Linked DNA regions of Homo sapiens. The protein of the gene in region 2 purifies or fractionates together with the protein of the main gene of each other region. This does not show direct contact. Each region holds a gene or a part of one and is shown on either strand. Other genes may lie near its edges.

Region 1 (2,761 bases), on a different chromosome or scaffold from region 2:
GGGAGGCTGGGCCCATCCACCACCTGGTGTCAGCCTTCATGCTGGCTGAGAACATTTCCCACGGGCTCCTTCTGCGCAAGGTCAGGATCTGCACCCCTAGCCTTCCCTCCCAATTGTTCACCTTCCTCTGAACCATTCGGGCCCCTTCAGCAACCGATCCTCCTCCCACCCAGCCCTCAGATTGGATTCTGCCTTCCCAATGTAACTACCCTTCCCCACCCCAGCCTTCAGCCTGGGGCCCCAACTTGGATTTTGACTAATTCACCCTTTGCACATCAGGCCAAGCCTGGATTCCCCTCCCCCTGCCCTCTGCTGTGGCCTGGACCCCCAGAACCACTGTGCCCTGCCCAGCCTCGGGGCCACCTGACAGGCCCTCCCTCCCTGTTGCCTGCCCAGGCCCCCGTCCTGCAGTACCTGTACTACCTGGCCCAGATCGGCATCGCCATGTCTCCGCTCAGCAACAACAGCCTCTTCCTCAGCTATCACCGGAATCCGCTACCGGAGTACCTGTCCCGCGGCCTCATGGTCTCCCTGTCCACTGATGATCCCTTGCAGTTCCACTTCACCAAGGTCAGAGCCCAGCAGGCAGCCAGGCGGGCGGGCGTCCCAGGACGCTGGGGTCTCCCGGGTTGGGTGGGGGGCGGTGGGGGGGGCGGTCTCTCGGGTTGGTGCTGCCCCCTGCTGGTAGAGCATAGCTGGCCAATTGACAAGTCTTATGGAGTTGAGGGGTTGGGGGGTTGGGGGGATGGGGGGGCGGGGGTGGGGAGAGTGAGTGAGGAGGCTGGGGAAGGGAGGCAGGGGCAGCTGGCCAGGGCGCACTCGTCTGAGGGAACCTGGCCCGTGCAGGAGCCGCTGATGGAGGAGTACAGCATCGCCACCCAGGTGTGGAAGCTCAGCTCCTGCGATATGTGTGAGCTGGCCCGCAACAGCGTGCTCATGAGCGGCTTCTCGCACAAGGTACTACAGCGCCTGCCTGGACCTTGGCATGGCATCACTCCTCCCCTCCTCTGCATTTGGGGTCCTGACCTGTCCCTGGGATGGCTTGGGGTGGGGCATGACCCCTCAGCACTGGCTGCAGCCCTGCCCATTACCCCCGCTCCTTGCAGGTAAAGAGCCACTGGCTGGGACCCAACTATACCAAGGAAGGCCCTGAGGGGAATGACATCCGCCGGACCAATGTGCCAGACATCCGCGTGGGCTACCGCTACGAGACCCTGTGCCAGGAGCTGGCGCTCATCACGCAGGCAGTCCAGAGTGAGATGCTGGAGACCATTCCAGAGGAGGCGGGTATCACCATGAGCCCAGGGCCTCAATGAGCCTGGTCCATGAAGTGCCCACCACATCGCAGCACTTTTACCACGTTTTGTCCTCAGACCCCGCCCATGCTGTGTGGTCTCTGCATGTCTCCATTCTTCTCTGTCTCTGTCTTGCATGTCTCCTACCATGTCACTGTCCCTGGGCCACCCAGTGAAAGCAAAGCCTGGGAATCTGCTCATTGTTGTTTGGGCTCAGGTATTGAGCCTGATGGCCCAGGTATTGAGGGCCTCCCCTGCTGGTGGCCCTGTCCTGGGATCCTCAGAAGCCTGACTGTCCTATGGGCTTCTCCAGTGTCCACAGGGGCTTGGGATGGTTGTGGGGGGCTGGCCCCTCTAGCCTTTCCGGTCCTTCCTGGGCAAATCTAAGCCTTGGCCAGGGCCGAAGTTTAGGCCCCTGTCTTGTTCATGTAGCCGAGGGGCAGGCGGGGGACCTCTACACCTCTGCTGTGGGCACGGGGCTGCTGAGGGTCTGTGGAACTCCAGCAGCTCTGCACTGGGTAGAGCTGGGCCTAGAGCTCAGTCACAGGCCTGGGCTTCCTGGCCTGAGTGGGTAGACGCAGGCGGCAGAGGTGCTGGACCACATCTCCGCCAAGTCACTGCCCAGCAGCCTTCTCCGTCCTGTCCCCAGCCCACGTGCTCCTTGGGTGTCAGCTTCCTGTGCCTCTGTGGGAGAGGGCAGCTGCCTTGTGTTATGTCTGGGGCCACAGTTGCTGCAAAGTCCTGGATCTGCCACTCAACCCCGGGAGTGGTGTTCCCAGTGTGGCTCCCAGAGCTTTGACCAGATTGTGATCCCAGCTGGCCCCTATGTTGTGTTCTGGACTGAGGCCTTTGCTGTGAACTGCAGTGTTTCATACGAACCATCTTTCCTAGTGCATGAGAAATAAAGATTATTTAAGTAATGAGGCAGGTGGGGTTTCTGTTGGGAGAGGGAACGCCGTGGTGGGAGGTGGCTGTGGATGGAGGCACCGTGCATTCTGAGGGGAGGGACTAGGCTTGGGTGATGTGTATGTTGTGCATGTGGAAACTGACAAAAGAAGCTGTGGGAGAGAGGAGATGCCCATCCAACCCTCATCCAGCCTGTTCCCTGTGAGGGGAACACCTAGCCCCGGGTCTGTGACACATCCCTGTCACACCAGCTTGGGGGCTGGTGTCTGTTTCCCACCTTGTACTTCCTCCCCTCTTCCAGCCTCTGAGGGGATGGCCTGGTAGATGGGAAATATGCACCTACAGACAAACCTGAGACCAGGGTCTTCTGGGGGGGTCTTGTTTAGATGGCCCTCTCCAGGCCATACTCTCAGAGATTCTGATTCAATAGGCAGAAGGTGTGGCACAGACATCTGCAAACTCTCGGGCAGATTCTATTGCAAGAGGTTGGAACAAGCCTGTGCATTCCGATTCCAGCCCCCCGCCCCCGCCCCAATCCCATCTCAGCCTCTGTCCCATGT
Region 2 (6,935 bases):
CAAAAAAGTAGAAAGACCCTAAATGTCCATCAGCTGATGAATTGGTAAACAAAATGTGGTACATCAATATAATAGAATATTATTCAGCAATAATAAAAAATGAAATACTAATACATGGTACAATGTGGTTGAACCTTGAAAACATTACACAAAGTGAAAGAAGCCAGACACAAAAGGCTACATATTGTATAATTCCATTTACATGAAATGTCCAGAATAGGAAAATCCATAAAGACAGAAAATAGAGTTTCTTTTAGGGGTGATGAAAATGTTCTGGAATTAGTACTGATGGTTGCACAACTTTTGTGAATATACTAAAAATACTGAATGGTATACTTTAAAAAAATACTGATTTTCCTTAGGGGCACATTTTCTAGTTACCACTTTTAATAAGTAAGGTATGTCTTCTAACTTTTGCAGTCCTCCTAAATGTACACCCCCAGGCAGCTGTACAAAATGGACCTGCTTTTGGTCTCTTGTCATTGTCTTATGTTCTTCTACAGGCACAGCTTCTGTGTCTTCTATCTCAGTCCATTAGTTATGACTGGCAAATGCTGATAGAGACCCACATAGAGGACTTTAAAGGTTATCCAGGCCGCTTTATAAAATAGACTAGTTCAGGTGATAGAGTAAGGACTACAAAATATGCTAAGGGTTTAGGAAAGGTTTAAAAAATAGTTATGGTTTTTTTCTCCCTTTCCTTCTGCTTTTATTCTCTCTATAGTCTTAGAAAAGATGATTGTTATGGCCTCTGGTTAGTTTTAATCATCTGGGGGAACCCTGAAAGGCCCTAAATTGCAGCTCTAATGTCCCTTTAGCTGTCTCTGCTTCAACATCTACTACTACTTTGCTTATATTTGATTTATCTCAAGCAGGGTCTTCCAAAAGTGTCTGATCAAGCCATCTCCAATAAGCTGGTTGACTTTAAGATGGTAAAAGCTTTACATCTTACCTTTCTCACTGCTCTGAACACTTCGTCAAAGGCCTATTGGTAATATATGTTCTAAACTAGCCATCCTCAACACCAGATACGCATTTAAATAACCTGAGAAATACTTTTTAAATGCTCATGAATAAATGACTAAGCCCCAGACCCAGCTTAATTGTCCTGGGGTGGAGGCTGATAATCGATATCTTTGTGGTTTTTTTGTTTGTTTGTTTGTTTTTGAGACGGAGTCTCACTCTGTCACCAAGGGTGGAGTGCAATGGCACGATCTCGGCTCACTGCAACCTCTGCCTCCCAGGTTCAAGCAATTCTCCTGCCTCAACCTCCCGAGTAGCTGGGACTACAGGCATCTGCCATCATGTCCAGCTAATTTTTGTTTTGTTTTGTTTTTTTGAGATGGAGTCTTGCTCTGTCGCCCAGGCTGGAGTGCACTGGCGCAATCTCGGCTCACTGCAAGGTCCACCTCCCGGGTTCATGCCATTCTCCTGCCTCAGCCTCCCAAGTAGCTGGGACTACAGGCGCCTGCCACCACGTCTGGCTAATTTTTTGTATTTTTAGCAGAGATGGAGTTTCACCGTGTTAGCCAGGATCATCTCGATCTCCTAACCTGGTGATCTGCCCGCCTCAGCCTCCCAAAGTTCTGGGATTACAAGCATGAGCCACCACGCCCAGCCTAATTTTTGTCTTTTTGTAGAGATGGGGTTTCACCATGTTGGCCAGGATGGTCTTGAACTCCTAACCTCAGGTGATCTACCTACCTCGGCCACCCAAAGTGCAGGGATAACAAGTGTGAACCACTGTGCCCAGCCGAAAATCAACATTTTTAAAATGTTCTACCAGGCAATTCCAATGGGCAGCCAGGGTTGATGAAAACTGCACCAAAAACACAGCTATTAGAATGATCAAAATCCAGATCACTGACAACAACAAATTCTGGGGAGGACGTGGAGCAACAGGAACTCTCATTCGTTGTTGGTGGGAATGTAAAATGGTAAAGCCAATTTGAAAGGCAGTTTGGCAGTATTTCTTACAAAACTAAACAAACTCTTACTATTCAGTCCAGTAGTTGTACTTCTTGGTATCTACCCAAAGGAGTTGAAAACTTGTGTCTGGACATGGATGTTTATAGCTTTTTTAAACTAGCATCTTTAAAGGCTTTCCCAGATAATCTCAACATCTCTGTCTTTGCATTGGTGTCAGTTGTCTGTCTTTCTCCATTTGAAATTCCATAACTTCCTTTTTTTTTTTTGAAATGGAGCCTCACTCTGTCACCCAGGCTGGAGTGCAGTGGCACGATCTTGGCTCACTGCAAACTCTGCCTCCCGGGTTCAAGGAATTCTCTGCCTCAGCCTCCCGAGTAGCTGGGATTACAGGTGCCCGCCACCATACCCAGCTAATTTTTGTATTTTTGGTAGACATGGGGTTTCACCATCTTGGCCAGGCTGGTCTTGAACTCCTGACCTCGTGATCTACCTGCCTCAGCCTCCCAAAATGCTGGGATTACAGGTATGAGCCACTGCACCTGGCCAAGATGCCTAACTTTCATGCTTCTTCGTATTCTGAGTAATTTTGAATTATATGCTGGACATTTTGAATATCAGGTTATGAGACACTTCAACAATTTCTTTTTGTTTTGTTTTAGACACAGGGTCTCACTCTGTTGCCCAGGCTGGACTGCAGTGTGTGATCATAGCTCACTGCAGCCTTGAACTCCTGGGCCCAAGGGATCCTCTTGCCTCAGCCTTCACAGTAGCTAGGACTACAGGCATGTGTCATCACACTCAGCTATTTTTAATTGTTTTTTTGTAGAGACAAGGTCTCACTATGTTGCCCAGGTTGGAAACTCCTAGCCTCAAGCCATCTATCTTCTTACTTCAGCACGCAAAAGTGCTAGGATTATTGGTGTAAGTCACTGCTCTTGGCCACACAGAACAATTTCTATTTCTCTATCTTTGAGTTCACAAACTCTTTTCTTGTCTCCATTCTGCTATTGAATCCATTTGGGGAGAATTATTTTCCTTCGTTATCATATTTTCCACTTCTAAAATTTCCATTTGCTTCTTCTTTAAATATTCTTTTTTTGTGTGTGTGCCAGGACTTTGTTTTTACTTGTTTCAACAGTGTTCATGATTGCTTGTTTAAGCATTTTTTTTTTAGACGGAGTCTCACTGTTGTCCAGGCCAGAGTGCAGTCGCGTGATCTCGGTTCACTGCAACCTCTGCCTCCTGGGTTCAAGCAATTCTCCTGTTTCAGACTCCCGAGTAGCTAAGACTACAGGTGCGCGCCACCATGCCCAGCTAATTTTTTGCATTTTTAGTAAAGACGAGGTTTCACCATGTTGGTCAGGCTGGTCTCGAACTCCTGACCTCAAGAGATCCACCCGCCTCGGCCTCCCAAAGTGCTGGGATTACAGGCATGAGCAACCGCGCCCAGCCTAAGCGTTTATAAAATAGCATCTTTAAAGGCTTTCCCACATAATCCCAACATCTCTATCTTAGCAGTGATGTCTGCTGATTGTCTTTCCCTATTTCAGTGGCCCTATGTTCCTGGTTCTTCATATTCTGAGTAATTTTGAATTATATGCTAGACATTTTTAATATTTAGTTATGAGACTCTTAGTCTTGTATAATGCTATGAGGTATGTTGCTATTTCTGTTTTAGCAGGTCGTCTACCTCACTTCACAGGCAGCCACCATGGTCCTTGTCCCTATGGCAGGGCCAGAGCAAGAGAGGGCCCTGGAGGGGAGGGGGGCTCAGTTGAAGATGGAATGAGTTTTGAGGGGAGCACTATTTGAGGTATTTGAGTACCCGAGGCATATGAAACAGCAGAGGGAGGTCGGATTCCATTATCTTCACGGGGATGAAAATCGGGAGTGTGGGGTGTGGGGCTGGGAACTGCAGCCCTCCCCACCTTTGGGTGCTAGCCTCAGTGCGCATGTTCACTGGGTGCCTTCCCGTCGGCCCCTTCGCCCACGTGGAGAACGCCAGGGAGCTGTGAGAGTGTGCAGTCGCGTTCCTGCTGTCCGGACACTTTTTTCCTCTACTGAGACTCATCTGGTAGATCCGCAGGCCAGTCCTCCCAGGGGCTGAAGTGTGAGTGAGGGTGAGGAGGAGCCAGTGGGCTTCAGGCGGAGCCAGTGGGCTTCGGGCAGGTTCGGTGGGCCCCTCGGTCTGGTGGTGTGTGGCTTTTGAGGGAGAAGGGCCTCAGTGGCCTCCAAAAGAGAAGGGCCTCGAGCTCGTCCTCCTTCTCCTCACAGGCTGCGACGCCGCCATCGGCTTTGTGGTCGTGAAGGGGCCAGGACAGGGAGGAAAGTGGGCCATGAAGGGGAAGCGGTCAGGGGCTCAGGTGAAAATGAGGCGAGTGCTGCGGGTGCTGTTGGAGGGGTCAAAGTCCCGAGGTGGTAGGAACCCATGACACAGGGCACATTCCTGAGTCCTGAATGGGGCCCCGAGGCGGGAGGTGGGTGGTGAAGATGGCGGTAAAGAAGGGGCCTGGAACCTGGGAAGGCTGTGGGCTGGTGAGCGCCCCCCAGCGGTGTGGAGTGGGGAGTGCCCGAGTGAGAAACACCCGAGTGAGAAGCGTGGCAAGGTCTCACCTCTGCCATAGAAGGTCCGGAAACAATGGGAAGGACTGGGAGAGGCTGTGTGGCCCAACCAAACTTGATTTGAGGGGGGTGAATGGCTCTAGTAAGTGGGAGTGTGCCAAAAGCAGCAGTCACGGGAATTGTGATTCACTAGTGTTTTCATGTGGAGTCCGCTTGTGAAACTAAACCTCATCAGAAACGTCCTCTGTCAGAGGGGCGCAGTGGTGCGCGCCTGTAGTCCCAGCTACTCCGGACGAGGCAGGAGGATCGCGTGAGCGGGAGGTCGAGGCTGCAGTGAAGTGTGATCACGCCACTGCATTCCAGCGTGAGCAACAGAGCGAGATTCTGTGTCTAAAAGAAATTTTAAAATAATGTCCTCTGCCTTTTGCCACATGCCTTAAGATGACTACTCTGCCAGCTTGGGGAGCATAAGTGGCTTTGCAAGCACTCAGAAAACGTACACACTTGCACTTAACTCTGGGACTTATTTTGAGAGTATTTTCAAAATTAAAATGACAAGTTAACATTTAGCCATGGAAGTGATCGAATATAGCTGTCCTCTCAAGTGCATGTTCCCAATCACAATTTTCTCTTTTCAGTGTGAAATATGGGTTTTCTAAGAAGATTAATCTATCGGCGTAGACCAATGATCTATGTAGAATCTTCTGAGGTAATTGGGCCTATGCTGTTGAGTGCTTTAACGTTAATTCGATGTTTTCTATTAGCAGAAATTAATTTTTGTGATAGTGTTGTTGCATTAGTATAGATACACTAATAAAGGTAGTTCATGCTGATTAAAAAAATAAGATTCTGGTATCTCATGAAGGAAATATTGATTCAGGAGGATTTTTTTTTTCTCTTGTGTTCTCCAACTTTTGGCCATGACTTCTTTCTCATGCTTTGCTTGTGAATGACACATAGATTATACACATCTATTCCAACATAGAGTGCAATAGCTTCCAAAGTCCTTGTGGGTAACTTTTCTCGCAGTAACCTTTCTGTGGGTAGAGTAGCCTTATTAACCATATAGAATAAAGTTGGAGAAATATTTTTAGGTTTAGTTATGATCAGAAACATCTATGCATTCTCTGTGTGTATACGTATATATTTTTTGACATGTATTAATAACAAAACTTTTTGTCTTTGCACACTCACACACATATTCCCTACCACAAGGAGTCCAGTGATGAGCAACCTGACGAAGTGGAATCACCAACTCAAAGTCAGGATTCTACACCTGCTGAAGAGAGAGAGGATGAGGGAGCATCTGCAGCTCAAGGTGAAGGGAAAGGGAAGAAGAATGCCTGTTGGGGTGTGTGTGTGTGTGTGTGTGTGTGTGTGTGTGTGTGTGTGTGTCTCATGCATTGTCACATACCAGGAACAGGAGGAATGAAAGCCATGCAAACGATGCCTAGAAATTGACTGGAAAAGTGAAGAGGGTATAGTTTGCAGCTTACCTTAGGGAAATAAATCCCTCACTATGATAAAATTTCTCCACTTTATGAATGAGAGAATGGAGGCCCGGGGATTGTGTTTTGTCCAAGAACACTTGACTGGTGAATACAAAATTTGTGTTTTGTTCCAAAGTTTGTGTCTTCCTACCATCTATGTTGCTGTAACAATAGTAAATGATTTTGCTGAAAGTGCTTAAAACTCAAATGCTTTACTGTAATGTAGCTTAGTACTGGCCCAGGAATAGACCCAGTTCAGAGGAGCAGGAGCAACTCCAAAAACTGAGTTCCTGATTGCTGGCCACCATTTCCTTTGATATTTTTATGTGGTAAGTTTGTTGAAAGCTGGAGAATTCAGGATACTGCCATACAGGTAGCTGGTGTAGTATGATTTTTTAAGTGGCTTTTAGGAGGTGATTAAATCCTTTTATGGTTAGAAAAACCAAAAAAAAGGAATTATCCTGAGATTAACATGAGATGGAAATAATTTCTCCGAGATAAAATATTTTGAAGCAAAACAATTATCTAACTCAGGTCATGGATTATTCTAAGGATTCACTGTTAAAGGTATCTAGAATAAGACTGACAACAATGCCCATTAATTGCTGTCCACTCATTCCTTTGTTCTCAGCGTGAGACAGTATATTTGCTGTAATTCACAAATAGTGTTATTTTTGGTGCTTTGTTCTACATGGGGTTCATTTATGGAATATTACATTTAGGACCTTTGGACCTAAATATAACTTTATTTGAACAAAGTTAAGTTTCTGTTTACCCCAGTAGACAATGGGTGTCGTGACTGTAAGATTTTCCATAGTCCTCAAATCCATCCAGCTGCTCAATCCTTCAGAAACTGACACTGTAATTGTAACTGAAATCCTATCCATGATGTAGACTTCAGATTTCTCAGCTGATGCACACTGCTGTTGGTACTCTATGGCCGAATATAAGTAT
Region 3 (7,046 bases), on a different chromosome or scaffold from region 2:
CGTGGTGAAACCCCATCTCTACTAAAAATACAAAAAGTAGCCAGGCCTGGTGGTGGGCACCTGTAATCCCAGCTACTCGGGAGGCTGAGGCAGGAGAATGGCTTGAACCCGAGAGGCAGAGATTGCGGTGAGCTGAGGTGGTGCCATTGCACTCCAGCCTGGGTGACAAGAGTGAAACTCGGTCAAAAAAAAAAAAAAGGCTGGGTGCGGTGGCTCACGCCTGTAATGCCAGCACCCAGCACTTTGGGAGGCTGAGGCGGGTGAATCACTTGAGGTCAGGAGTTCAGGACCAGCATGGCCAACGGGTGGTGAAACTCCATCTCTACTAAAAATACAAAAATCAGCCAGGTGTGGTGGTGGGTGCTTGTAATCCCAGGTACTCGGGAGACTGAAGCACAGGAATCGCTTGAACCCAAGAGGCGGAGGTTGCAGTGGGCCAAGACTGTGCCATTGCACTACAGCCTGGGTGACAAGAGCAAAACTCCGTCTCAAAAAAAAAAAAAAAAAGAAAGAAAGAAATAAAACACTGTTTCATAACAGCCTTCTCCAAATCTCCAAATAGTTTTTAACTGAGCAAGGATTCACATCCAGTTGATTTCCACTTCACACAAAAATGACATATTTAGGAAGTTTCCTCTTATGTGACCAGATATTGGACTATCACTTACCCTTTTGAGGCTTATGTTGTCATGTTCATAATTCAGCCGATAGAGAAAAAACCGAGAAACTGTAGAATAGGCTATCCAACTTCCACATGGGGAGATACAGCTACAGATAATGTTCTCAGGACCCTGGCAATATCAGGAATCAAGATGAATGTGCAATTAAACTTCACATAACAAGGTGCACTGGGACATGACGCCTCAAGCTCTTGCCACTCTGGACATACCCACAGATATCTACACATAATCTCGATCCTCGTGTGGTCTGCATTAATATGATTATTTCAGAGGCAGAGCACCTAAAAGGCATGGCTTTGATTTCCAAATCCAAGAATGGAGGTCTATTCTTATTTTGGCCCTTTGAATACTTCATAGATAGCCTCATACTAGACCCCAACTTCAGAAACCTGAGCAGGGAGGCATTTACTGAAGGAAAGCTCTGGAGGATAGGTGGTTTGAAGTACTTATTTTCTGTTTTGTGTACGGCGTTCTGCTTTAAAGACTTCTAAGAAATAGCAAATGAAGAACATTTGAAGGCCAGGTACAGTGGGTCATGCCTGTAATCCCAGCACTTTGGGAGGCTGAGGTGGAGGATTGCTTGAGCCCAGGAGTTCAAGACCTGTCTGGACAACATGGTGAAACCCTGACTCTACAAAAAATTAGCCGGGCATGGTGGTGCACACCTGTAGTCCCAGCTACCTGGGAGGGTGAAGTGGTAGGATCACCTGAGCCTGGGAGGTTGAGGCTGCAGTGAGCCGTGACCGTGCCACTGCTCTCCAGCCTGGATAACACAATGAGACCCTGCCTCAAAAAAGTAAGCAAACAAACAAAAAAACCAACCAACTAACCAAACAAAAAAGAATCTGGAGAATAAAGAAAAGTTGAATGTAACATGTATGTAGTTTTTAAAAACTCACAAAATGATTTTTTTTTCATTGTATACCCTTTTGTACTATTTGAGTTTTTAAAAATATGCACATGGCTGGGCGCGGTGGCTCACGCCTATAATCCCAGCACTTTGGGAGGCCAAGGCGGGCGGATCACCTGAGGTCGGGAGTTCAAGACCAGCCTGACCAACCCCATCTCTACTAAAAATACAAAAAATTAGCCGGGCGTGGTGGCGCATGCATGTAATCCCAGCTACTTGGGGGGCTAAAGCAGGAGAATCGCTTGAACCCAGGAGGCGGAGGTTTCGGTGAGCTGAGGTGGTGCCATTGCACTCCAGCTTGGGCAACAAGAGTGAAACTCCGTCTCAAAAATAAATAAATAAATAAATAAATAAATAAATAAATAAAAGCACATTATTTTCATAATAATATCAAAAGAAGAGAAACCTATTTCCTGTATACATCCATCTAATAAATCCTCAACGTCCTACTTATAATCACAGGAAACCCAGTCCTGGTGACACAGTCCTTCATTCAAATAGTTTTAGAATTTATACAATTTATGATGCAAACTAAGTAACCTCAAAATTCAGAATGGGAATTATGAGCCTAGAATTCAGGCTCTAGAATTCAGAGCCTAAACAAACTTCCTTACCTTTGTCTTTAGGTGCAGTAAATGATCTGCATTTTTAGAGAGTGGAAGAGTATCCCCATTCTTGCCTGAAACAAGAAACTTCCCTGAGATTTTTCTTATGAAAGAAAGAGTATTTGTACATTTTTCTTCTAAAAAGTTACTCCTTGGAAAAATGGAATCTCTATCAGTGGGAAATCAGAAAAATACAAGCTCACTGAGTAAGCTCACAATTTTTGAGGGGTATATGAAGAGAAAGCAGTGAGTACTTCTTTTGCTTCTATCCTCTGATACATCACTAATTCCCTGAAGCTCTAGTCCATAGCCAGGGACACAGGTGGAGTTTGTGTGGCCTCGATTTTAATCCACTGCAAATGAGAGGACTCAAACATTTCCTTAATAAGTCAAAAAGGCCACTAGGCTGTCACTCCAATAAGATCCATGTGATCTTCTTTTTCTACAGGATTATCATTACCCATCATTAAATCTTGTTGTTTTTCAACAGCCTGTTTTCACCTCAGTTAAGCTAGCGCAAACTACGATTCTTCAACCCTTACCTTGACTACACCCTGCAGCGCACCACCTAGAGCCATAAACTTTTAAGAGATGATCCAATATCCTGCTAAAGATTCTAATACTCTAAACAGCTTATTTGCTTTATCTAATGGGTGGGAAAACCATTAGTTAAAATGGACACAAAAGTCTACTTCAGTTTTTCTATAAGCAGAATTCCAACCGCAATTCTGATTTCTGGCTTCTCTCTCCAGTTTTCTTATTGAAAAAAACGTGCTCCCATCTTACCTGTTGCAACTGTGGATCCCAGTCGCCAAAGTTCTAAGTGATGAGCAAACTGGAAGAGGAGAAGCTGCCTCTTTTTAGAACAGGAGATGAGACATCGCTATATCCAAGAATCAAGAAGTTAAAAAAATAAGTCAGGGTCATCTACTGCCTTAGTACCAGATACAGTAGCACCACCTTAGCACATTTTTTACTGCTGAAATCCATTTCCTTGATAAATATTTCCTAAGTACTCCCATATGCCAGGCACTGCCCTGAGATCTATGAAGACGATGATGAATTAAAACATAGCTACTGCTCTCAACATGCTTCTAAAGGGGTGACACAGAATTAAATCAGCAATTAGACTTCAGTGTGCCAAGAATTTTAACACGGCTAAACACAGTATGTACTGAAAAATAAGGAGACAGGACATCTAACCTAGCTGTGTGGTGGTAAATACAGAAGCCCAGATGAGGTTCACTGGGAAAGACCAGTCAGGCGAAGGAGGCAGGGCAGAACATTCTGAGGAGGGTGATGGCATGTGACATAGCTCAAAGGTAAGAGTATTTGAGGGAACAAAAAGACCTTGAGAATGGCTAGCCTGGGTGGGGGTGCTACAAGCACGAGAGGTGCAAAAAGAAGCTGAAGGGCCAGGCCTGGATGGAGACAGGTTCTATAAGACACACTAAGGAAACTGTCTTTATGCTGAAGCCAACAGGGATAACCAGAGGCTTTGAAGCATGGAGTGATGAACAAAGGTGCTTTAAAACAGATCAATGGGCCTGGAGCAGTGGCTCATGCCTGTAATGCCAGCAATCGAGAGGCTGAGGTGCGAGGATTGCTTGAGACCAGGAGTTTGAGACTGGCCTGGGCAAGATAGTGAGATCTTGCCTCTATTAAAAAAAATAAAAAATAAAAAAATTAGCCGAGGCCGGGCACAGTGGCTCATGCCTGTAATCCCAGCACTTTGGGAGGCCAAGGCAGGTGGATCACCTGAGGTCAGGAGTTCAAGACCAGCCTGGCCAACATGGTGAAACCCTGTCTCTACTAAAAATACAAAAAAAATTACCTAGGCGTGGTGGCGGGTGCCTGTAATCCCAGCTACTAGGGAGGCTGAGGCAGGAGAATCGCTTGAACCCAGGAGACTGAGGTTGCAGTGAGCCGAGATTTCACTACTACACTCCAGCCTGGGCAACAAGAGCAAAGCTCTGTCTCAAAAAAAAAAAAAAAAAAAAAAGAAAAACAGAAATTAGCTGAGCCTGGTGGCGCATGCCTGCAGCTCCAGCAACTCGGGAGGCTGATGTGGGAGGACTGCTTGAGCTCAAGAAGCAGAGGTTACAGTGAGCCAAGATTACACCACTGCAGTGCAGCCTGGGTGACGGAGCAAGACCTTGTCTCAAAAAAACAAAAACAAATAAAATAAAATAAGATCAATGAAGAATAGGCTAGAATGACACAAATGCAAATAAAAGGACATGATTAAGAAGCTACTGTAAAGGAACCCAGATGAGAAAAGACACTGATCCAAACTAGGATGATGCCAGCGTAGACAAAGAGAAATGAATGACTCGATTCAAGAGATTATGAGGACTATGTTCAACCTCATCAAACCATATGCATTAAATATGTATGATTTTTAATATATCAAGTATGCCTCAATAGAGCTGTTGATCTATCTATCTATCTATCTATATCTATAACATATGTATAAAGATACTGATGAGTAGACTCAATGAGGTTTACTGCTTGAATGAATGGGGCAGCAGGTGTGGGGAGCAAGTTTTCTAGCTTGGGAAGATGGTACCATTTACCTAGAACACTGGAAGCCTGGGTTTTCCCGCTCCCACCCAGAATAGAGCCTACCCTGAAAGACAAACTAACAAAATTCCCATAACCCACAACTATTTGGAAAAGGGAAAAATTTCCCCAGAAACTGAACTAGGTGTGCTGCTGCATATCTCCTGCCCCCATAAATGTCTTTGCAGTGGCTTGCCTCAAAAACAGAAGGAATGAAGAAGGTAGCTACAGAAAGTCCTACAATATCTCCATGTCCCAGATGGTTAAAAAAAAAAAAAAGGCAGGGGCTGGGCACAGTGGCTCACGCCTGTAAGCCCAGCACTTTGGGAGGCCGAGGCGGGCGTATCACGAAGTCAGGAGATCAAGACCATCCTGGTTAACACAGTGAAACCCCACCTCTACTAAAAATAAAAAAATTAGCCGGGCGTGGTGGTGGGCACCTGTAGTCCCAGCCACTCGGAAGGCTGAGGCAGGAGAATGGCATGAACCTGGGAGGCGGAGCTTGCAGTGAGTGGAGTCGCACCACTGCACTCCAGCCTGGGCGACAGAGAGAGACTCAGTCTCAAAAAAAAAAAAAAAGAAAAAAAAAGGACCACAAAGCTGAGCGTGGTGGCTCACACTTGTAATACCAGCACTTTGGGAGGCTGAGGCGGGCAGATCACCTGAGGTTGGGAGTTCCGAGATCAGCCTGACCAACATGGAAAAACCCAGTCTCTACTAAAGATATAAAATTAGCTGAGCGCGGTGGCGCATGCCTGTAATCCCAGCTACTCGGGAGGCTGAGGCAGGAGAATCGCTTGAACCCGGGAGGTGGAGGTTGTGGTGAGCCGAGATCGCGCCATTGCACTCCAGCCTGGGCAACAAGAGCAAACTCTGTCTCAAAAAAAAAAAAAAAGTCCTACAAATTTGCCGAGCGTGAGCTGTGTTCAGAGCTTGTGGGACAGGGGGACACAGGGATGGGGAGATGAGGGGTTAGCAGGGGCTTGGAATGGACACTTACGTGGGGAAAGGTGATTTTTCGGAGAGCGGCATCGTAATTCTTTACTTCCACCTTCTCCATGAGAGGACGAAAGACTAAGTGGGTGTCAGTGCCTGGGAAAGCAGGGGAGAAGGTGTACAGAATTAGAAGTCATCCTCACGAGAACAGCCAGAACTGGGCAGGGTAAAGCAGCAGCCTCACCAGAGGGGGAACCCACCTCCAGATATCAGCGCTGTTGGGCTGTGGGCCACAGTGCGCACGTCATGAGTGTGATGCTGGAACGGTTTTGTCCGCACCCACTGCTTCTCACTGCTGTTAGATGTCACAGGGACCAGCTGAAAATGGAAGACTGTTCCCTCGGCTGTGCCCACCACGAAACTGTCTTCTTGCTGAGGAATTAAATCATGAGGGAGGTACACGTAAGCAAAACAAGGTCTGGTTGGAAAAATATTCCGAGGCTTTCTGTCTCAGCAGCTTAGGGGTAAACCTATGCCCAGAATCAGTAGGAAAGTTACAAGGGTCTTTTCCTTCCAGAAGCTAAGGATTCCATCAAAGGAGCAAGCTCAGACACTGGTAACAATGCGCCCCCTACTGACAAAATTAACGTCTACAGTACAGCAACGCTTCATATACCCAACATAGATCTCCTTAGAATAGCATTGAGAGAGAGAAAATACCTAGGACCTACTTGAGAAATTTAAATCCTTCGAAAGAACATAAGAGAAAACCTAACAAAGAAATTCATATCATGTTATTTAATACGAATATTTAACATGATCAAGTTATTATCACTAAAGAAATGTATTAAACCAATAAAAATACTGAAAATCCTTTATTTGGAACTAGAACAGGTGTTTCTTAATAACGTTTATTTCATTAAAAATATCCAAGAAACATCAGCCAGGCATGGTGGCTCACTCCTATAATCCCAGCACTTTGAGAAGCTGAGCTGGGTGGATCACTTGAGGCCAGGAGTTTGAGACCAGCCTGGCCAACATGGTGAACCCCGTCGCTACTAAAAATACAAAAATTAGCTGGGCGTGGTGGCGCATGCCTGTAATCCCAACTATTTGGACGGCTGAGGCACGAGAATCACTTGAACCTGGGAGGCAGAGGTTGCAGTACGCCAAGATCGCACCACTGCACTCCAGCCTGGGCAACAGGGCGAGACTCTGGCTTAAAAAAAGAAAAAAAAATGCAAGAAACACCAATAAAAAAGTTTCTTAAATAAACAAGGTGGGCAGAGCAGCACAAACCTGTAGTCCCAGCTACTCAGGAGACTGGGTAGGAGGATCACTTGAGCCCAGAAG
Region 4 (4,889 bases), on a different chromosome or scaffold from region 2:
TACACCGCATTATCTAGGTTTATGTTATTTTACAGAAGAGACTGAGACTCAGTGAGGTTAACTGCTCAGTCACAGAGCTAGTAAATGGTGAGCCAAAATTAAAAACCAAGCTTGTCTCTGACCTTAACCATTATGCTATACTGTCTCTACATATGTATTATAAATCTCAAATCATATTTATTATTTTGCGCAGAAAACCATCATTGGCAAGGGCCCTTGCCTTCATGTTCCTAACAAGCCTCACACCTAGCAATGTCTAGGCAAAGTAAGTCCTTGAATAGCCAGTGCCATCTTCTATCAACCCACTCCAGCACCAGAGACTGTGGCACTCATAGATGATTTATCTTTGCTGTTTGTAATTTTTGTCCAGTATAAAAGATAACCCATGGATTGTAGTTTAATTGCCCCGTAGGACATAAACCAGTTTTGTATCTGTGGAGAGGCCCTCACCACCACCCCCAAATTTGAAGATTTGCTAGGAAGACTCATAAGACTCCACATACAGTTCTGCTCACGGCCATGATTTATTACAGTGAAAGGATACAAAACAAAATCAGCAAAGGAAAAAAGACACATGGGGTGAAGTCAGGGGAAACTAAGTGCAAGCTTCCAAGAATCCTCCGCCAGTGGAATCACAGAGGATGAGCTTAATTCTCCCAGCAACCAGTTGTAACAGCACTTGTGAAACACTGTCAACCAGAAAAGCTTGTTAGAGACTGAGTGCCTGGGGTTTTTACTGGGAGCTGGTCACAAAGGTAGTCTCTGCCTGGCACATACCAAAATTCCAGACTCCCAGAAGGAAAGCAGGTGTTCAGGAGAAACTATATTGTTTTACAGTTTAGATATAGTAAGCTACTTTGATCAGTTCTGGGAATGGTGGAAGCCCCCTGAACTCCAAGTTCCCAGATGCCAATCAAGGGCCAACCTTGTAAAGCAGGTCTCTAAGGTTAAGTAGTCAGGTCGGCTTCATTAACACTTTTTTCTGCACAGCAATTTTATCTCAACATTTTTTCTTCAATGCCCATAAATACTCAGTTTCTTGAATTGTACTTTGAACCAGGTTTACTATCTGCTGGTTTCCTCATTAATGAGTCGAATAAGTCTTCGACACATGCTCATCTTATACACATGTATATATATGAGTCATGTTGTCAACTTAAAAGGTTTGACAGATAATAACCTAATCAAGCTAAATAAAGTCCAGCCAAAATTAATTAATAAAAAACATTAACTAAATAATATCAAGGCTCAATCTACACCTCACTTTAGTTATTTAGGAAAGAAAAAAAATAACCTTTATACTAGCATTTCACACTTTCTTACTGACTTTAGAACGTCTTCTGATTTAGGTGGCAATCACTTGCCTAGTTGTACTTAGGGCAATATTAATAAAATAATGAATGTTTCTGCAAGAAATAATATATAAAGATTAATTTCCTCTTTAATTTTACCAATCAGAATATTAAAAATACTACATCATTGTTTTAGATGAAATTCCCCATTTAAATATATTATACATAAGCCAAATTTTAGAAATAGCTCCTTGTATCACTGTACAATTTTGGGCCTTTAAAAAAAAAGCTCAATTTTAAGTTTGAATATAATGTGCAGTTTATATAACATATATATTATATTATATATACTTTATACATTATATAAAGTATTATCCTTATTGTGAACTTTATTATGCTTCTGAAATTTCTCCATCATTTCAAATTTACTTCAATAAAAATTTCCCTATATTTTGTGAATTGCATTTTCAAATCAGAAGTAATGTTACAAATTTCTGTCTATAATAAAAAACAAAATATTCACGCTTTATTAATAATCCTAATTAGAAAAGGATGCAATTAAGAGCTGGCATAGCTAACATAAGCATAAGAAAGGTAAACTTTTCTTGAATTAAAAAAAGGAAATACTTTAATGAAAAAAAATCAAGGACAGAAGGAAGGAGAAAATTTTCTAAACAGCAGCTGGTCCTTCTTCACAATTTGCATTACTTATGCAAATACATCATTAAATAATACTCATCTTATATTTACAAAATAGAGGAAAGGGAAAAACCTAAAGTATCAGGATCTTTCATTTCTTATCCCTCTTCCAATCTTCTGGATACATTAGTTTACATACCAACTAAACATGTGATACTAGTTAACTATAGTTGAGAGCTTATCAATTAAGTCATCAATAGTGTAAACAAGAAGTTGAATGTCTGCTTTTTCCCTCATTCGGTGATCACTGTGTTTTCGGAGGATGACATCCACATCTGTGCTGAGTACTCGATCGGCAACCTGCATTGATGTATGCCAAGGTACAATGTCATCCTTCATGCCATGGAGCAATCTTATGGGGCAGTTCACAGGAATTGGGCTATGTAACAAGCAGTGATGTTCAGCTTCTTTAATGAAACTGTACTGAACGTTATAAACTCCTTCTTCAGAGTATTTTGATGGCATGCTCCACACACCTTTCATCTCTACTTCCTTTTTTAGCTATTGGAAAAAGAAAGAAAAATAAAAGTATTTGTGACTTTAGGCAACATTAACACATGCAATAGTTTTAAGTAATCTAATGAAAGCAGTTCTTGAATAAGAGGATAGAGATAACAAAAGTATAACAATAATAATTATCAATAATTACTACATGCAAGGTACTGTGATGGGTATTTTATACATATTATTCCATAAGATTCTGATAATAATTCTGTTATTATTCTATTTTTATAAAAGAGGATATTATGGTTTAGATAAATGAAATACTGTGTGCAACAGTTCAGGGCTAGGCTACTAACTGTTATGGCTAAGACTCAAACTTAAATTTAAATTTATTTAATTTTATCATACACTATCTCAAATCAGATGTTGCTTCACCCCAACTGAAAAGAAAAATGAAGAGGGAGAAAAGCACTACAATTTCTTGGAATCAGTCCAGGTATCATTCATATTTAAATAAAATCAAATCTTAGAATAAACATTGTTTAGATTTCAAAATTGTAAACCTAAAAGTGCTTATAAGTAGCTAAAATGGATATGGCATAGGGAAAGAAGAGAAAGAATCAAACACAGAACTAAGAATAAAAAAATAAGAGTAATTACATTGTAACAATCATACACATACTCATGCAATTTTAGGCTGAATGTAAAGAAATATAGTTTTTCCTTCCAGAGTCCTATAAAAGAGAAAAAATTTGATTTTTGTTCTGGATGACAAAGAAGTCTTCCACATACTTCCTGAAAGCCAAACAATAATATCTGTATATTTATTCCCTTAAAATGAAATATACATGTCCTTTGACTTTTTGAGAACTCTTATTTTTTATATAATTTATCTTAATTTTTCTAAAAAAATTAGAATTTTGTATAATGAGTAACATGCAGTCATTATAGAAAACATAAAAATAATTAAAGAAATAAATCACCCATAATCCTATCTTATGGAGAGAAAAACCATTAATATATGGCTTATTTCCTTCCAATATTTGTCTATATGTGTTTTGGTTTTTGTGTAATATGTAAAATACATACATATTACACATTCATATACAGTTTTCTATGCTGTTTATTTAGTACATATATTTCTGGGTTTAAAAAATTCTATGAAAAGGTTTTAAATGCTGCACAGCAGTCCACCATAATTGACTTAATTAGTTTGACCATCTCATACTGTGGTATTGTCATGAACACTTTTGAGCATAAAAGTTTATTTATATATAATAGATTATTGGAAAGATGATCACAGCTTAAAACTAAAACAAAAATCAAGCTATGAATAGTTTCAAGACTGTTACAATCATATAATATTAAGGGCATTTCTAGAAAAATGGAATGGACATCTTATCAAAAATTTTAAAAAATAAGGAAAGAAAAGCTACACATATTTGAAAAATTTAAAGTTTCAACAAATATACTATGATTTTCCCATGTTTAAAATTGTTAATTTATTGCAAATGTAAAAAGGAAAACAAGAACTTAAAAAATATGTATGACATAATATAATCTATATGTACTTAGGCTTTAATGTATTTTTAATTCCAAAAAGACTTAATAATTCAGTAAAAAAAAAACTGTACTTCTAAATATGTCTCCAAATGATTTAAAATTAATGAAATTCTACAAAACTATAAAATGTATATAAATCTATATCAATATCATGGCATTCTCTGTATTAAAACAACATATGAACCAAATATTTAAAGTAAAGATGACATTTAGCTATCCTCAAGCTACTCAGGATTGTTTCTGAATTTGTAAATACTTCAGCAGATAGAACTTAGTCCCACTGGTTATTAGCTGAAGTGGAGGCTTTGCTAATTAAGGCGACACTGAATTAATAATAGTTTCATTTTAAGCATCCCTGGCCCCCAACTAGCTCTGCTACCTGCCACTGAATTGAATGAAAATGGTCCATCTGAAGAACAAAGTTAACTTTATAAAATGTTGTATGTCTCAAGTCCTCAAGAACAAAAAGTTCAGAAACAGCAAAGACATTACCCAAAGAAAATGTACAATATATTAAGTTCTACATCAACAAAACTTATCAAGGCAATGTGGTTCAGAAGCTTACATTCCCAACAGCTGTGCATCATGTCTGAGGCCCTCTAGTGTCCAAAGAAGGTGATAATGATTAGAGTCAGTTAAAGAGGATGGTCAAGTTCTTAGAGAAGAAATGAGAAATGCTGGGCTTACTATTCCCAGGGTTATAAAAGATAGTAAAAATCTCCACATCTGCTCCGTTGACATTGTTAGGGCTAGCTGTTTATGTGGAGAAGAGATAGCGGTCTTAGTGTTGGTGCTCTTTCCTTATACATGCTTTTAAGTTAACCAAGGGCTCAACATGCTTCTGTTAACAACTGCTTATCTGAGTAAGTATTAGCAAAAAATGCCTTGATT

What was found.
Region 1: the proteins of PAGE1 (region 2) and AMPD2 purify together in Homo sapiens (co-immunoprecipitation; 2 studies listed by BioGRID and IntAct, with this or other methods). This does not show direct contact.
Region 3: the proteins of PAGE1 (region 2) and UTP4 purify together in Homo sapiens (co-immunoprecipitation; 2 studies listed by BioGRID and IntAct, with this or other methods). This does not show direct contact.
Region 4: the proteins of PAGE1 (region 2) and ABHD10 purify together in Homo sapiens (co-immunoprecipitation; 2 studies listed by BioGRID and IntAct, with this or other methods). This does not show direct contact.

The regions. Positions count from the first base shown.
Region 1 is NC_000001.11:109,629,837-109,632,597, forward strand, and holds the end of AMPD2 (AMP deaminase 2), read left to right. Parts: coding exon 1-80; intron 81-396; coding exon 397-570; intron 571-846; coding exon 847-957; intron 958-1,106; coding exon 1,107-1,316; 3' UTR 1,317-2,215; downstream 2,216-2,761. UniProt on the Homo sapiens protein: AMP deaminase plays a critical role in energy metabolism. Catalyzes the deamination of AMP to IMP and plays an important role in the purine nucleotide cycle.
Region 2 is NC_000023.11:49,692,973-49,699,907, reverse strand, and holds the start of PAGE1 (P antigen family member 1), read left to right. Parts: upstream 1-3,923; 5' UTR 3,924-4,039; exon of another isoform or gene 4,040-4,049; intron 4,050-5,129; 5' UTR 5,130-5,137; coding exon 5,138-5,200; intron 5,201-5,706; coding exon 5,707-5,809; intron 5,810-6,935.
Region 3 is NC_000016.10:69,149,616-69,156,661, reverse strand, and holds part of UTP4 (U3 small nucleolar RNA-associated protein 4 homolog), read right to left. Parts: intron 6,126-7,046; coding exon 5,954-6,125; intron 5,850-5,953; coding exon 5,758-5,849; intron 3,079-5,757; coding exon 2,982-3,078; intron 2,270-2,981; coding exon 2,205-2,269; intron 792-2,204; coding exon 669-791; intron 1-668. UniProt on the Homo sapiens protein: Ribosome biogenesis factor. Involved in nucleolar processing of pre-18S ribosomal RNA. Part of the small subunit (SSU) processome, first precursor of the small eukaryotic ribosomal subunit.
Region 4 is NC_000003.12:111,988,980-111,993,868, reverse strand, and holds the end of ABHD10 (palmitoyl-protein thioesterase ABHD10, mitochondrial isoform 1 precursor), read right to left. Parts: intron 3,170-4,889; coding exon of another isoform or gene 3,128-3,169; exon of another isoform or gene 3,118-3,127; intron 2,493-3,117; coding exon 2,148-2,492; 3' UTR 501-2,147; downstream 1-500. UniProt on the Homo sapiens protein: Acts as an acyl-protein thioesterase that hydrolyzes fatty acids from acylated residues in proteins.